2 separate regions of the Homo sapiens genome follow, and region 1 is linked to region 2. A link means that fine-mapping ties the variant in region 2 to the expression of a gene that starts in the linked region. Tissue or cell type: whole blood. Region 2 holds a variant in brackets; the other region holds the start of a gene. All regions are shown on one strand. Distances are between the middles of the regions.

What was found. PIP is the estimated chance that this variant, and not a neighbour inherited with it, causes the effect.
Region 1: CACNA1A starts here. The variant in region 2 is fine-mapped to the expression of CACNA1A in whole blood (TOPMed, PIP above 0.99). The same link has a PIP of 0.9 or more in NK cells, T cells and blood mononuclear cells.

What each region holds. Positions count from the first base shown.
Region 1 is chr19:13,501,540-13,509,539 of GRCh38, reverse strand. CACNA1A (calcium voltage-gated channel subunit alpha1 A) reads left to right here and starts at 3,061. Exons shown (of 47, transcript NM_001127222.2): 1 at 3,061-3,608. The coding sequence starts at 3,316. RefSeq lists an enhancer at 1,493-2,019.
Region 2 is chr19:13,204,367-13,212,608 of GRCh38, reverse strand. It overlaps CACNA1A (calcium voltage-gated channel subunit alpha1 A), which reads left to right. Exons shown (of 47, transcript NM_001127222.2): 42 at 87-225; 43 at 393-506; 44 at 1,957-1,992; 45 at 3,111-3,297; 46 at 3,600-3,853; 47 at 4,556-6,167. The coding sequence ends at 5,296. Among named protein-coding and RNA genes, the nearest start is that of IER2, 58 kb to the right of the region's middle. RefSeq lists enhancers at 2,893-3,793, 4,100-4,369 and silencers at 3,780-3,969, 4,050-4,099. The variant G/C (reference allele first, on the strand shown) is at 4,109.

The DNA.
Region 1 (8,000 bases), 300 kb before region 2:
CTCGCTTCTTGTTTCATATTAGTTGCTGTTCACCTTTTATATCTGAAACAATGTCAAGTACAAAAATCACTGATATTTGGTGAGCGCCTTAAAAGCCCCTCCTTCTCCCTGAATCCCACACAATTCTATCTCCTTGCAATTCCAATCACTCTTGGTTTAATCATTTCATCCATATCGTGACAAGTTAGAAAATCTTGAAAGTGCTATGGGGCAATGTATAATAGTTGGTGCATTGGCACAGAACGGGGACTTTATATAAAGACATATCATCTTTCCAGAGTGTTCCAAAAGAACTCGAATATTGATATGTGTGTGTGGGGTGGCGAGGGGGGAAGGGAATTAACTAGGATTTAACTAGCTAAGGCTTGAAAGAATATTTGCCTTTTTCATCCTTTTCCCATTCCTCTCCATTTGGCCTTTCTGCGTATACAAGCTCCATGAAAATTCAATGGTTTCTTGGTACATTGAATTTGCAAGACAGTTTGATGACATCTTATAAGCTTGAAGATATGAATACCTTGTGGACCCAGACATTCCACACCTAAGGCTATTCCTAGAGACATGCATTCTTATCTGCACCAAAGGTACCTGAGGCAGTAATGTTTAATAGCCCCAACTGGAAAAAAAACAGATACCCATCAACAAGATGATGGATAAACAAATTGTGGCATATTCTCTTGATGAAATACTATACAGCAGTGAAAGTGAATGAATCACAGCCATGTGTGACAACAAACAGGTGAATTTTTCTAAAATTCGAAACAGATTAGGATGTATGAATCTTGTTTTTTTTGTTTGTTTGTTTTTGTTTTGTTTTGTTTTGTTTGACAGAGTCTCACTTTGTTGCCCAGGCTGGAGGGCAGTGGTTTGATCTTGGCTCACTGCAACATCCTGGACTCAAGGGATCTTCCCATCTCAGCCTCCTAAGTAGCTGGGACTAGGTTCACATCACCATGCCTGGTTAATTTTTATTTTAAAAAAGGTTTTTGGAGAGACAGGGTCTTGCTATATTGCCCAGGCTTGTCTCAAACCCCTGGCCTCAAGCAATCCTCATGCTCTGCCTCCCAAAGTGCTGGGATTACAGGCGCAGACACCGTGCCCTGCCAGATGAATCTTAAAGACATAATGTTGAACCGAAGAAACAAGAAACTGTAGAATATATACTATATGATTATTCCATTTATATAAAAGCCCAAAAGAAGCAAAGTAAAATTGTATTGGTTAGGAACGCATAATAAGGTAGTCAAACTTTTTTTAAAAAAGCAAGATATGAATACCATAAAGTCAGGTAGCGATTATTGCTGGAATAAGGGGCTGTGTAAGCGTGTTGGCAAAGGGGGTTCTGCAGAGGTGGTGATGTTCCATTTCTAGCCCTAGACTTGATTTCATGAGTGTTCATTTCAGACCAATTTCTTAACTCCGTACCTTTATGTTTTATGCATTTTTCTTTGTGCTTATTGAATTTCACCACACAAAAAGCAGAATGGGAAGTAATCAAAGTGGTTCTGGAGAGACGTGAGTATCAAGCAAACTATACCACCCAGAACCCCTATCCAGCCAACTAGGACCTGGTTAATTATTTCCTCCTGGGAGTTCAGACTTGTCACCTCTGGGGTCTCCAAGGTAGAATAAACCTTTAATTCCAACTTGCAGGAGTCCTTGTGATTTGAAACGTTCACAGAAGTAACCCCAAACCACTCTCTCCACTTTCAAAAATGGTCTTTTGCTAAACAGAGCAAATTTGTTTAGAGACTGACGAATCGCACCTCTAGACACAAATCCCCTTCTCTTTTCTGTCTTTTAAGTTTTTTTCCTGCCTCCATCCTGCCTTCTCCTTGCAAGATGCTGGGGAGCGTCCGGCTGTCTGCAACCGAAATGGAACGGGGTGGAAAACAGGCTTTCCTCCCAGGGGAGGAGGAAGCACCCCAATTCCCCCCTCCCTGCCTCCCAACCATGCGACGCTCCCCTCTCTCCCCCACAAACTCCGCTGAGCCCGGTACCCCCGCGCCTCCACGAGCCTCCACGATTGGTCGCGGGCCCTCATGTGTCGACACTCTGGGTGGGTCCTTCTACTGTTAAACTCATCAATTGCTCCCCTTTTCCGTTTGCTGGCCAGTGGTTCAGACCTTTGCGCCCATTTTTTTTTCCTCTTTACCTTCTTCTACCCGCAACCCTCCACACCAGTCTTATTTTAGCAAAACCTAGAGAAGGAGGAGGTGGAGGGATTTGGAGGGTGGAGAGGCATTGCCGCATCCAGGGGCAGCTATTGAGTGGCTAAGCGGAGGGCGCATACCTCTCTCTCTCTCTCTTTTCCCCCTGTTGGGAATTTTCAGGATTTCACTGCTGCAATTTAACCCCAAGATGAGGCACCATTGAGCGAAACGCTGTGCGCACATACACACTCACACTTCCTCCGGGAGCAGAAGAGGCAGCCGTTGGTGATTCAGGAAGAAAAAAAATTTTTTTTTTTTTTTTTAAACCTGGACCCTGCGGTGTGAAGACTCCTTAGGAACCCTCTGGAGCGTCTTACTCCCCTTCCCTCCTCTTTCCCTTCCCTTTCATCTTCTTTGTTTTTATTTTATTTTATTTTTGGAGCTACAGATCTTTCAGCATTTTTAAGGTCTAGGAACTCCAGCAAAACAGAAGGGCACTTAATTTTTTTTTTTTTTTTTTTTGCCCTCCCCACCCAGACCTGGGTTTCGTCTTTCTTTATTTTTAAATATATATATATTTTTTTATTTTTTATTTTTTATTTTTTTTTAATGGGCCGAGCGCACTCCTTTTGCAAGATGCCAGCCTGACCCGGACCTCGGAGGAATTTGAAGCTTCCACTGCGTCCCGGGGGGGGCGTCCTTTGCAAACCGTTCGCGTCTTAAAGGGGGTGTGCGTTGGGTGGATTTTTTTTTTTTAACTGTCTCTTTTTTTTTTTTTCCGGAGTGGGTGGACTGGGGATTGCCTGGATTCCTTCCTCGGTTATTTTTTGCCTCGCTTCTCTCTCCCCTCCCCCCTCCTCCCCGGGCCCCCGCGCCCCGCCCCCGCACCCTCCTCCCGCCCCTCCTTCTCCGGGGTCAGCCAGGAAGATGTCCCGAGCTGCTATCCCCGGCTCGGCCCGGGCAGCCGCCTTCTGAGCCCCCGACCCGAGGCGCCGAGCCGCCGCCGCCCGATGGGCTGGGCCGTGGAGCGTCTCCGCAGTCGTAGCTCCAGCCGCCGCGCTCCCAGCCCCGGCAGCCTCAGCATCAGCGGCGGCGGCGGCGGCGGCGGCGTCTTCCGCATCGTTCGCCGCAGCGTAACCCGGAGCCCTTTGCTCTTTGCAGAATGGCCCGCTTCGGAGACGAGATGCCGGCCCGCTACGGGGGAGGAGGCTCCGGGGCAGCCGCCGGGGTGGTCGTGGGCAGCGGAGGCGGGCGAGGAGCCGGGGGCAGCCGGCAGGGCGGGCAGCCCGGGGCGCAAAGGATGTACAAGCAGTCAATGGCGCAGAGAGCGCGGACCATGGCACTCTACAACCCCATCCCCGTCCGACAGAACTGCCTCACGGTTAACCGGTCTCTCTTCCTCTTCAGCGAAGACAACGTGGTGAGAAAATACGCCAAAAAGATCACCGAATGGCCATATCCTTTTGCCCGAACCCCAGCAGCAGCTGCGCCTCCCCCTCCTCCCTCCGCCTCCCCTCTTCCAGGCTGGGAGAGAGACCCGGGGGTTGATGGGAGGTGGGGAGGAGGGGGGTCTTCCAGGGGCTGGGAGAGGGGGCACCGGGAGGAGTGTGAAAGAATCTCTCCACCCCGAGCTGGGTTGAGCTACCCTGGAGGCTTGGGAATGGGTTTGTGGGGGGCTGGGGGGTGGGCAGCGGAGAGTGGATCCTTCCCAAGGACCGACTCTAGAATGAGATCTGGGGCCTGGGGTCGTGCAGGAGCCTTGGTGGGGGCTTTCGAGCCAAGTCCGGAGGGTTTGGAGTTCTACGGAGTGAGCTTGGAGCGGGCTCGGGCCTGGGCGCTTCTGGCCAGGGCAGGGGAACTATGGGGGCCTTGGTTGGGTTTTCTTGGCCGTCGCTCACTGGAGTCCACGCAGGGGAAGCTGGACAGCCTCTCCACTACTGCTTTCCCCAAGGTGGGGGGCCGCCGCACTTTTAGGGCAGGGCGCTTGGGGGCTCCCAGGGCTAAGAGCAAGAGGGAGTCCATGTGGCCTTCACACTGAGAAGCCAGCACTGGCCGAAGTGAGTACCCCAGGGTGGGCCGCTGTTCCTATCTGGAGAGGATAGTGATGGGCTGGGGGGCGCTTATGTTTCCCTCATGTGTGCAGGTCCCATTGCCTTTAACCGCTGATTGGGGAACCTCATCATCTTTGGGGGTGTCGAGAAAGAGATCCCACTTGCTTTATCTGGGCCCCTGGCCTGGGAAGACCTGATCTGGACACTTTCAGTAAGAAAGACAGGGCAACAGCAAATGAGGTGGTGGGTCCATTTTAGAGCACCATGTCCAGCTTTTCCTACCCCGAGTAGCCGAGAGGGAACACCAGGAGAATCAGCACCCATGTGGACATCTTAGGTAGGTAAATGCCTTTTAAATTTTTTTTTTTTTAATCAAAGATCCAGAGGAAAAAGGTGAAGCCCACATTTTCTTCTGTGGAGATGCTATCAAAATGCAGATCTTCTGTGTTTCTTTAAATCCCTGCCTGCTTGAAATAAACCTTGAGGAGGGCTTAACATCTATCGAGATGTAGGCAGGCAAGGGTGGGTAATTAGTCGGGCTTTCTAGCAGTTATCTAAGCATGACCCAGATTCCAGGAGGGGGGACACACCCTGCTGCCCAGGCTGGCTGGCCACTGTGCCATGCCCAGATGTGCCGCTTCTCCGCACAGTTCCAACCAGCTGCCCTCTGTGTAAAAATGAACGGGCTGGATGGGTCCCTGGGGCTCAGCGATGAGTCCCCTATCCCTTTTGTATGTGGTTTTGCAGTTATAGACTAAACGGGGCTGGGCCCTGTGTGGTCTCCGGGGGTTGCTGTTTGAGGAGCATGGCGGGTGGTAGAGGGACTCACTTCAGGGGGGTTCAAAATCGAGCCTGGCGCTTGGATCCTGGGTGCTGGGATTGCAACAGAGGGCACTGAGGTTTTGGAGTGTGTGAGTGGTCTACTTTGAGGGTGGGGAAAATTAAGAAGTTCAGCAGAGGTGCTTTTGAGGGGAGCATACCTCTAACTACGATGCCATCTCCGTTGGTGCCCAAAGCAGGTGCCAGGTCTTTGCTTCCTAAGTTTCAGACTCTTAAAGAGGCTGGTTCTTAAGGTTAGCAATTCCTCACCATCCCAGGCCCATTGAAGTGCTCAGGGGTGGCTTGATTACTCTGCCTATCAACAGAGTGAGGAGTGGGAGTGCCTTGCAGGAGGACAGGGTATTCATGGGTGCACACCCAGTTAGCTCCAGGAGTGAGAGGGCTTTGCTCGGCTGACAGGTTTCCTCATTGAAAATGGCTTTAGATCGCCTTCTGGAGCCTGGATTTGGAGACTTCTAAGAGGAAAGGAAGGAGGTGGGGAGCCCTTCTGCTGTGTCCTTAGCTTACCTCTGTCCAGCCTGAATCCTGCAGATTGGAGGGCTGTTGGGGGAGAGGGGGATTGCAGTGGCCCCTCGGAAGGGGGAATCGTGGGAGAGGGAGGCAGGTGAATTGCGAGTGTTGCTTGCCACTTCATCTATTCTCTGGCCAGCTCGCCCGGGGCTTTCTTGCTCTTATGATGAGTTTGTGCATTATGCTCTCTGCAGACTGTTTTTGTTCTCTTTGACCCGAGGTAACAAACACATTATACAGCCCTACTCTGGAAGGGAAAACTCCCCACCTCACAATCTGTCATCGAGCTGGGTCATCCAGGACTGAGCTTTCTCTGTCCTGGATGGAGCGGAGGGCGGTGGCGGGGTGGGTGGGAGGGTTGGAGATGAGAGGGGATGGACAGAGACCTGGGGAGGGAGGTAGTGAATAAAAGAATTCAGGCCAGTGTAAAGAGAAAGACACGTGGAATGTCAGAGTCACGATACCAGGGCAGAACATTCTACTTTTTAATCTAAATATTTCTGCCATTAAAAAAAAATGTTTCAGCATATCCTGAGAGTGAAAAAAAAAGTGTGTAGGTACTTAAATAAAGTCTAATATATGTACAGGCAAGTACATATATTCAGATGCATAGATTTTTACAAAATGAACACACCCACGTATCCAGCACCCAGGTCCCGATCAGTGCCCTGGAAGTCCCCCTCCCCATACCGCCTCCTAGTTGCTCCCCCAACAAGGGTACCGCTCACCTGACTTCTAAGGTTCATTTTGCCTCTTTTAAACATGTAAATGGAGTCACACAGTACGTTCTTTTGCCACTGGCTTCTTTTGCTCACATCTGTGTATGTGACTCTACTACAATCTATCCATTCTACTGTTGATGGGCATTTGTGTCATTTCTGTTTGTGCCACTGGGAACATTCTTGTGTCTTCTATTATTTTTTTCCCACAGTTCTCTTAGATAGGAGTGGAATCGCCCCTGCTACTTTTTGATGCATGTGTTGTGGGATGTGTATTTGGAAATGGTGTTGACTAAGGGTTGCAGGTCGATATGGAAAGCAGGTTCCTCCCTGTCTTGTTTAAGAGAAGTGAGTGAATGATCCATGAACTTGTCGGTATGCTCACAGGGCCTAAGAGTGCTACTTCCAAATGTAAATTCTGGCATGGTACACTGGTGAAGGATGCAGTCTTGCTTTCTCCACACTCGGGGCAATTTGTCACTATGATTTCTTCCTCTTTCATCCCTCAGTGGGTCAAACTTGAAGCCATCAATGACAATTAAGAATCCTCATTTATTTCATTTTTTCCCCTCTTCCTAAGTGAGGAAACCCAAATGGAAGTCTTTGATGTTCAAATTTACATTGCCGTGTTTTTCTCATGCCAGGCAGCAAGCCGTCTTGACCACACACCTTGGTTTCATGTTTTCATTGACTGGAATTGTGATTCAAATAGGGCCATGAGGGTCTCTGATGATTGCCGAAGAGCTCAGATCTGTCAGCTCAAAAAGGAGCATCTGTCAGCCTTCCTAGAGTTCCCTCCCCACTTAATGCCACTCACTCCTTCTACCAAGTGCCAAGGTGAATGTCATCTTTCCAGCCCTCCCTGTGCCACCAGGTCTCCCACTGAACATGATGTAGAAACTCAGGCCATCGGAGGAACACTGGAAGCAGGTCAGTGTATTATCACGCACAGTTGCCTGAATTACACGTAGAATTCCAGCTTTTCATCCGGTTTGCAGAAATCTTAACAAGACACCTAAAGTCACATTGACATCAGGTGACATCACTTTGACATCTGTGGACATTGGCTGATTGGCACTCCTCTCATTTTTTTTTTTTTTTTTTTTTTTAAGAAAAGCTCTCTAAAGAGAAACTTTCTGCATGAGAAGCGCTGGGAGACATGGGAGCAGGTTATCAGACTCTTGGCCTGTCCTGAGAGATAGAATGTTCTAGAAGGTACTGCCGTAGAGGGCAGGATGGTGTCACTTACGTGATCCTTGTACTAGACCGGCTTGGCTGGTATTTCCAGAGGAGCAAAATTCTGCGAAGTAAAATTTAGCACGGCTTTTCCAATGGGAGTATTTTCAAAAAGGGTGCAATTTCTTATCCACAATTCCCCAATCCAAAAAGCTCCAAAAACCAAAAGACGAGCTCATATAGAGGTAAAACCTAACCTGAACTGACTTCAGTTTGAAGTCTTAATTTACAGTTTTCATTCATTCTACTTGGTGTGCATTTGAGTATGTTTTGCAGCAGAAATGTTAGATGTGCTTGATGATGAGGTGCTGCTTCAGCTCCTGACTGTTAGGTCTGCATTGTAGTCCTGTCAAACTTTCAGGTGTATGGAAGTTGTCTTGTTAACAGGATGGTTCTGGTCCAGCAGGATTTGGGTGGGGTCTGGGATTCTGCTTTTCTAGCTAGCTTCTAGGGATTCCCCATGTGGTAAGTTCATGGGCTAGGGTTGGAGT
Region 2 (8,242 bases):
AGGTGGAGTGTGGGGGTGCCGTGGTCCCCACGTTCTGGAAGCTGCCCAAGCGCCCACTGCTACCCCGGCCTCTGTCCCCCATGCAGGATGGCTCACGAAAGCGGCCTCAAGGAGAGCCCGTCCTGGGTGACCCAGCGTGCCCAGGAGATGTTCCAGAAGACGGGCACATGGAGTCCGGAACAAGGCCCCCCTACCGACATGCCCAACAGCCAGCCTAACTCTCAGGTGCCTCTGTCCCCCAACTCCCCAATGGCTCCCAGGGCCCGGGTGGTTCAGGTGGAAGGGATCTGGGCCCCCCACACACACACACCTGCAGCTCCCTCCCTCTGCAGACACCAGGGATCTGGAGGTCAGGCCCCAGAGCTCATCTGGCTTTGCCATCTGCTCCGCAGTCCGTGGAGATGCGAGAGATGGGCAGAGATGGCTACTCCGACAGCGAGCACTACCTCCCCATGGAAGGCCAGGGCCGGGCTGCCTCCATGCCCCGCCTCCCTGCAGAGAACCAGGTGAGGGCTTTCACCACTGCCCTGGGGCTGGACCCCTCACTCTGCACTGGGTAGGGCCAGGCCCCCCCACAAGCAGCCCAGTGCATCCCCTCCCTGCCGGACTCAGGCCTGGGTAGGGACTCCTTCAGTCTCTGAAGCAGTCTGCAGGCCCCACCCACCACCTGGTCACACCTGGAGCACCTGCAGACCCTCCTCCCTCACAGAGGACAGAGAGGAAAGTGCTCCCCCTGGGGCAGAGGGCAGTGGCCACTGCAAAATGGTCTCTGGCTGCCCTGGTTGGAGGCTGCAGACAGGGGAGGTTGTGGAAGATTTGTGGGTGCAGCAGGGTTCAACAGGGCCAGCTGAGACCTGCCACGAAGATCACCCCTACACAAACACACACACACATGCTCAACATACATGCACACACATGTGCAGCTGTGCGCCTACTCAGATGCTTGCATACACACACGTGTGTGCACGTGGGCATATACACACTGCACATGTACTCACACATGCACACATGTACGTGCACACGTGTCTGCATATGGGAACTTGGCAGGTCCTAGGATACAGTAGCAGAGTCTGGGGTGGGTCTGGGGGCAGCTGGGCTCGTATTTTCTGTCTGGTCTCTGTGGGAGTCATTGGGGGGCACAGGGGTGTGTGCTTGATGTGTGTCTGTGTGTGGCCGCTTCACCCAGCTGCCAGGCCCACCTGCAGGTGATCCCGTTGCCTTGGACTCATGGGACAGAGGGCCCAGAGGCATAGCTGGCTGCCCACCCGGCCTGAACAGCGGGGGCCCATGCACGCAGCCCGCCTCTGGAGGAGAACAGGGCATGGCTGTGAGAGCCTGGCCCGGGTGCGTGGCATGTGTGGCTGTGGCGAGCTTTCCGTGTGCCGTGTGTGGCGTCTGCACGGGGCAGGAGGCTGTGCTGTGCCTGGCTGGACCAGGGTCACCTGAGGGCCTGGCCTCTGGCTGCTGGGAACGTGGGTTGGGGAGCACCCAGCGTGCATGCTGCTGCTCCCTCAGGACCGAGCTGCTGGGCCCCAGGAGAGGGTTGGGACAAGCCCAGCTGACGGCCACCACATGGAAGCTTTGAGCATCGGCCGGAGCCAGGGGTTGGGGTGTGCATCGCATGAGGCAGAGCCCAGGGCCAGGGGCTCGAGGCTGCGCCGTCCTGTCTTTCGGTCCCATGCCTCTGCCATTTGTCTGTCTGCATCTCCTGTCTGTCTCCTCTGTACCCATGGGAATAGAGGACGCCCAGCCCCGGGGGCCTGGGACACCCACCCGCCAGGACTTTAACTTTTCTTTTCCTCCCTGCCTTCTCCCTCCGATTTCTCTTGATGCCAGTGCCACTCCCCTCCTTGGCTTCTTCTCCATGCACCACCTCCTCACTCTCCCTCTTGCCTTTTATATTTATTTTCTTCTTTCTGTTTTTTCTGTGTGCACCATCCCATGGGGCTGTGACAGAGGAGAAGGGGCCGGCCACGTGGGAATAACCTCAGTGTATGTACCGCGCCTGCCCAGCGCCCAGCAGGGCTCCGGCCCCCTCTTCCTCCCCACCCCCCCTCCAGGGAGTCCCGTCATCTCTCACCGTCCCCGGACCCCACCCTTTCTTTGGCAATCGCACCCTCTCCCCTCCATGGAGCCCAATCCTTGTGTGTGGTGTCCTGTGTGTGCCCCTCACCCATAAGCCCTGGTGGGCGGGGCCATCCCCATCCTCACCCCTACCCCCTTTTCTTCAGGGCCCCCCACGCCGGAGGACACTGGCTCTCCAAGAGCCTGGCCCACTCTGCACCTCTTTCTGGGGGGCTTCTTCTCCTGACACCACCACCAACCCCTGGTCCTGCAGCTCCTACCTGGAGCAGGGCCACCAGCGCTCAGCTGGGCTGGACCCTGGGAGGCGGGCGTCTGCCCCATCTCCCTCCTTCCCTCCTCTGCCTGCTGCAGAGAAACCTGTGTGTCAGGGCTTGACCCAGGGATGAAGCACCAGGGAAAAGAGTGGGCCCCCAGAGCCTCCAGTGCCTGGGTATCCCCCACCCCCACCCAGAGCTCCCTAGCTTGGGCCTCACCAGAAGGACTCAGACTTGTGGGGGCAGCGAGCACAGCCCCGTTAGCCGGGAGGACCCAAAGCTGCCATGCCGGGCACCTGGTCCTGAGCCCATAGGTCAGCCAGCCACAGTCGGAGGCTTCTCACCCTCCCAGGAGAGCAAGCTGGGGCAGGGATGAGTGCGGCAGTCCAGGGCTCCCAGGTTTGCACCCTGGATGTGGAGAGGGCTTCCCTCTGGCCAGCCTGAGCCTGCCCAACTGTGGCTGGGCCCCCAGGACTGGAGAGTGAGGATCAGATCTTTCTGGTCAGAACCCAGGATGGGCTCAAAAGGAGCAGTCCTGTCTCTGAGGGACAGAGGAATCCTCAGGCTCCACCCTCAGAGGCCTGGCCACACCCAGAGCCCTGATTGATCAGGGGGAGCCAAGGCCCCATGGCATCCCCTGGCCCCTGCCCCAGGATGGTCACACCGCAGTCACCGAAGGCCACCACCAGGCTGCCACAATGGGGCAGGAAGGACCGGGACCACTTGGTGCTAGCTGCTGACCCCAGCCCACCGGCCTGTCCCCTCCCCCAGACCATCTCAGACACCAGCCCCATGAAGCGTTCAGCCTCCGTGCTGGGCCCCAAGGCCCGACGCCTGGACGATTACTCGCTGGAGCGGGTCCCGCCCGAGGAGAACCAGCGGCACCACCAGCGGCGCCGCGACCGCAGCCACCGCGCCTCTGAGCGCTCCCTGGGCCGCTACACCGATGTGGACACAGGTGGGCAGCCCTGTGGTGCTCAGGGACAAGCAGAACAGAGGAGAGGAGAGGGGAGGAGAAGGCAGGGCGGAGGAGACACTAAGGAAGAAGAAAGGGAGAGGCCTCCATGGAGAGGGGACAGAGGGGGCCAGGCAGCAGCTGCAGGAACCTGGGTACTACCCCCTCCCCCCAACCCACTGACCTGCCTCGGTTCAGGGGATCTCTAGGGCCCCCACACCTTCCAGGTGGCCTCCTGTGTGTGCATCTGCCCCACCTCTCCCTCACGACCACCTGTGTGTCTGTCTGACCCTCACCCGGCCCAGGCTTGGGGACAGACCTGAGCATGACCACCCAATCCGGGGACCTGCCGTCGAAGGAGCGGGACCAGGAGCGGGGCCGGCCCAAGGATCGGAAGCATCGACAGCACCACCACCACCACCACCACCACCACCATCCCCCGCCCCCCGACAAGGACCGCTATGCCCAGGAACGGCCGGACCACGGCCGGGCACGGGCTCGGGACCAGCGCTGGTCCCGCTCGCCCAGCGAGGGCCGAGAGCACATGGCGCACCGGCAGGTGGGTGCGGCTGCAAGTGACCCCAGGCTGGGCTCGGCCGGGAGGCGGGGAGGAGAGAAGGGGATACCCCATCCAACAGCCACTCTAGGCAAAGGTCCCCGGATCCCGGCTGTGACCACCTCCCATCCTGCCCCCAAGCCACCGGGGTGCCCGGCGGCCGGAGCGGACACGGATCCCCACCACACCAGCTGCCTATGCTGTCCCCCCAGCCCCCTTGCCCACCCGCCGCCCCCTCCCCGCCGCCCGCAGCTGCTT[G/C]CTCCTCGGTTGTGGATCATATTTGAGTTCTGGGCCGTGCCGCCCGACCTTTCACTTTCCTTTAACCCGGCTTCTGTTTTTGTTTCAATTATGATTTCTGTCCTCTGGACGCCTGTGAGTAATTTTTGAAACTTCTGCTATTTTTAACCCCGAAACTTACAAAACTCCATTTCTCATTTCTCTTTTCACTTTGTTGTGTTGGTTTTCGACTCCTCCCCTCCCTGTCTCACTCCCCCTCCTCCCCTCCCTCCTCCCTGTGGCTGTTGCTTTTTTCCATTCAATGTCCTGTGTCCCCCCTCTCCTCCTCCTCCTCCTCCTCCCCCTCCCCCTCCTCCCTCTCCTCCCGGCCCCTCTCCCTTCGCTCCCCTCTCTTCCTCCCAATCCCGTGTCTCCTTTGATTTTGTTGTATCTTTTTTTTTGATTTCCTTTGTTTCAATTTTCGTGTAGGGCAGTAGTTCCGTAAGTGGAAGCCCAGCCCCCTCAACATCTGGTACCAGCACTCCGCGGCGGGGCCGCCGCCAGCTCCCCCAGACCCCCTCCACCCCCCGGCCACACGTGTCCTATTCCCCTGTGATCCGTAAGGCCGGCGGCTCGGGGCCCCCGCAGCAGCAGCAGCAGCAGCAGCAGCAGCAGCAGCAGCAGGCGGTGGCCAGGCCGGGCCGGGCGGCCACCAGCGGCCCTCGGAGGTACCCAGGCCCCACGGCCGAGCCTCTGGCCGGAGATCGGCCGCCCACGGGGGGCCACAGCAGCGGCCGCTCGCCCAGGATGGAGAGGCGGGTCCCAGGCCCGGCCCGGAGCGAGTCCCCCAGGGCCTGTCGACACGGCGGGGCCCGGTGGCCGGCATCTGGCCCGCACGTGTCCGAGGGGCCCCCGGGTCCCCGGCACCATGGCTACTACCGGGGCTCCGACTACGACGAGGCCGATGGCCCGGGCAGCGGGGGCGGCGAGGAGGCCATGGCCGGGGCCTACGACGCGCCACCCCCCGTACGACACGCGTCCTCGGGCGCCACCGGGCGCTCGCCCAGGACTCCCCGGGCCTCGGGCCCGGCCTGCGCCTCGCCTTCTCGGCACGGCCGGCGACTCCCCAACGGCTACTACCCGGCGCACGGACTGGCCAGGCCCCGCGGGCCGGGCTCCAGGAAGGGCCTGCACGAACCCTACAGCGAGAGTGACGATGATTGGTGCTAAGCCCGGGCGAGGTGGCGCCCGCCCGGCCCCCCACGCACCCCACGCACACACCCCACCCGAGGAGCCGCGCAGAGGCCGCGGGGGCCCAGCACAGAGGGCCCGGGAGAGGGCCAGCCGGGAGACCCCAGACTCTGGAGAGGCCAGGGCTGGGCCACAAGGGTGTCCCGCAGAGACCCTCGGCCAAAAGAGACCCTCCTGGGCAGCCACGGCGCCCCCCAACCAGCCCCGATCCCCCCACCCACGACAGGGGCTCTCGGGTGGGAGGCAGGGAGCAGACAAACCACACAGCCAAGGGATTTGAATTAACTCAGCCATTTTTGGAGAACTTTGGGGAACATGAAAAAAAAAAAAAAAAAAAAAAAAAAAAACATTTTTAAAAGAAAAAACGGGGAGAAAAAAATAGCTTCTATTGATGAGTTTTATCATCTCAATTGAATCTTTCCTTTCCCTGATGAAGACAGCTGGTGGCCGAGTGCGGCAAAGAAGCCAGAAGGAACCAGAATCCCAGTGCCCTACACCCACCACCAGACACACTCACACCCACACACGTTCTCAGACACACACAAGAGTGCTTGCCGGTTATACCAAACCCTACTATTACTGCCTGCAGAAATCAATTTAAAAAAATAATAATAACAATAAACAATTTTAAAAAGGACAAAAAAATTAATGATTGAGAAAAGAGGCATTTTTTTCTGACATTTGGTCCTGCTTGAAACAACAAAAGAAGAAGAAAAACCCACCATCACCACCGATTCCTTTGCTTCTTTTTTCCTTTTTTCCTACCTTGTTTGAAAACCGTGGGCTTGGGACTGTGAATTATTGCATGACATTCAAAAAGAAAAAAAAAATAAAAAAAAGTTGAATCAAAGGGCTTTTGGATAGGAGTGGTCTTTGTCCCTTGGCTAGGTGCTGCCTGGGTGGGTCTCTCTTGGGGAATCATACAAAGAGGCACTTCTTTGTTAGCTCCTAGAAGCACTGTTTGAAAGCGACAAGGAGGCCGGGCATCATGCACGCCTGTAATCCCAGCACTTTGGGAGGCTAAGGCAGATGGATCACTTGAGGTCAGGAGTTCGAGACCAGCCCGACCAACATGGCAAAACCTCATCTCTACTAAAAATACAAAAAAAATTAGCCATGCGTGGTTGCACAAACTGTAATCCCAGCTACTCCGGAGGCTGAGGCATGAGAATCACCTGAGCCTGAGAGGCGGAGGTTAGCAGTGAGCCAAGATCCCACCACTGCACTCCAGCCTGAGTGACGGAATGAGACTCTTGTCTCAAAATAAAAAAAAAAAAGGCAGGGCGCGGTGGCTCACGCCTATAATCCCAGCACTTTGGGAGGCCGAGGTGGGTGGATCACATGAGGTCAGGAGTTCACAACCAGCCTGGCCAACATAGTGAAACGCCGTCTTTACTACAAATACAAAAATTAGCCACGCGTGGTGGTGGGTGCCTGTAATCCCAGCTACTCGGGAAGCTGAGGCAGGAGAATTGCTTGAACCCAGGAGGCGGAGGTTGCAGTGAACCAAGATCGTGCCACTGCACTCCAACCTGGGTGACAGAGCAAGACTCCATCTTAGATAATTAATAATAATAATTTGGTCTCGTGGACACCAACCCCCGCCCCCACGAAGTGTTTCAGCCATCCCCAGAGTCCAATACCCCTTTGAGAGCTTCTGTTCTCACAACAGTACCTGACCCATAGCAAGCTACTATTGACTATCACCATTACTACTGTAGCATTAAGGCAAACATTTTGAACAGGTCTTGTTCCAGACAACAGGCCCTGCTTGAGCTTACCTTGGGTAAGAAATCTGCAGACTCCAGATAGCAAGACAGGTGTAAGTCCTTCTAAAATAATGGTAAGCCAAATGTGGTGGCACACACCTGTAGTCCCAGCTGTTCAGGAGGCTGAGGCAGGAGGATCACTTGAGCCCACGAGGTCAAGACCAGCTATGATCACACCTGTGAATAACCATTGCATTCCAGCCTGGGTGACGTAGAAAGATCCCATCTCTAAAAAAATTAAAAGTAAAAATAAATAAATAAAATAATGGCATCTAGGAAAAGATCAGTCCAACGAGAAGTCAAAGTTTTGAGGTCGAGTGCGGTGTCTGACTCTTGTAATCTCAACACTTTGGGAGAATCACTTGAGGCCAGTAGTTCAAGACCAGCCTGGGCAACATAGCAAGACGCTGTCTCTAAAAAAAAAAGTTTGTTTTTTTTAAGGCTGGGTACAGAGGCTCACGCCTGTAATCCCAGCACTTTGGGAGGCCAAGGTGAGCAGATCACCAAGTCAGGAGTTTGAGACCAGCCTGGCCAACATAGTGAAACCCTGTCTCTACTAAAAATAAAAAAATTAGCCAGGTGTGGTGGTGCATGCCTATATTCCCAGATACTTGGCAGGCTGAGGCAGGAAAATCGCTTGAACCTGGGAGGCAGAGGTTGCAGTGAGCTGAGATTGCGTCACTGCACTGCAGCCTGGGCGACAGAGTGAGACTACGTCTCAAAAAAAAAAAAAAAAAAAAATGGAATGGAAGGGAGGGAGGGAGGGGTTTAACTTTCTAACCAGGCAATCTGGCAACCACCACAGGCTTCTAAACAAGCTGCCCATCCATTGCAGAGCTGGCCTCTGGTCCCCCTCCCATGGTGCTGGGGTTGAGTGTGTCCAGGAGCCACTGGAGTAAGCCAGGGTTTGTGCAATTCCCTCTGCTGTCAATGAGGCTGCAGCCATCTGTCCTCCCAGGAATGAAGTTCACTACCGAAGCCCCCCATGAGCCCTGAACTCAAAGGCCAAGTCTATGCCCGAGTGCCAAGAGGTAGACCCAAGGCCTCCACAGTGCACATCATCAGGCTAGAGTGTTAGTTGCCCAGGAGACACAGGGTGGGAAGATCAGGGGATGAGGAAGAGGGGCGGAGCTTGGCCTAGTCCCCAGTCTCACAT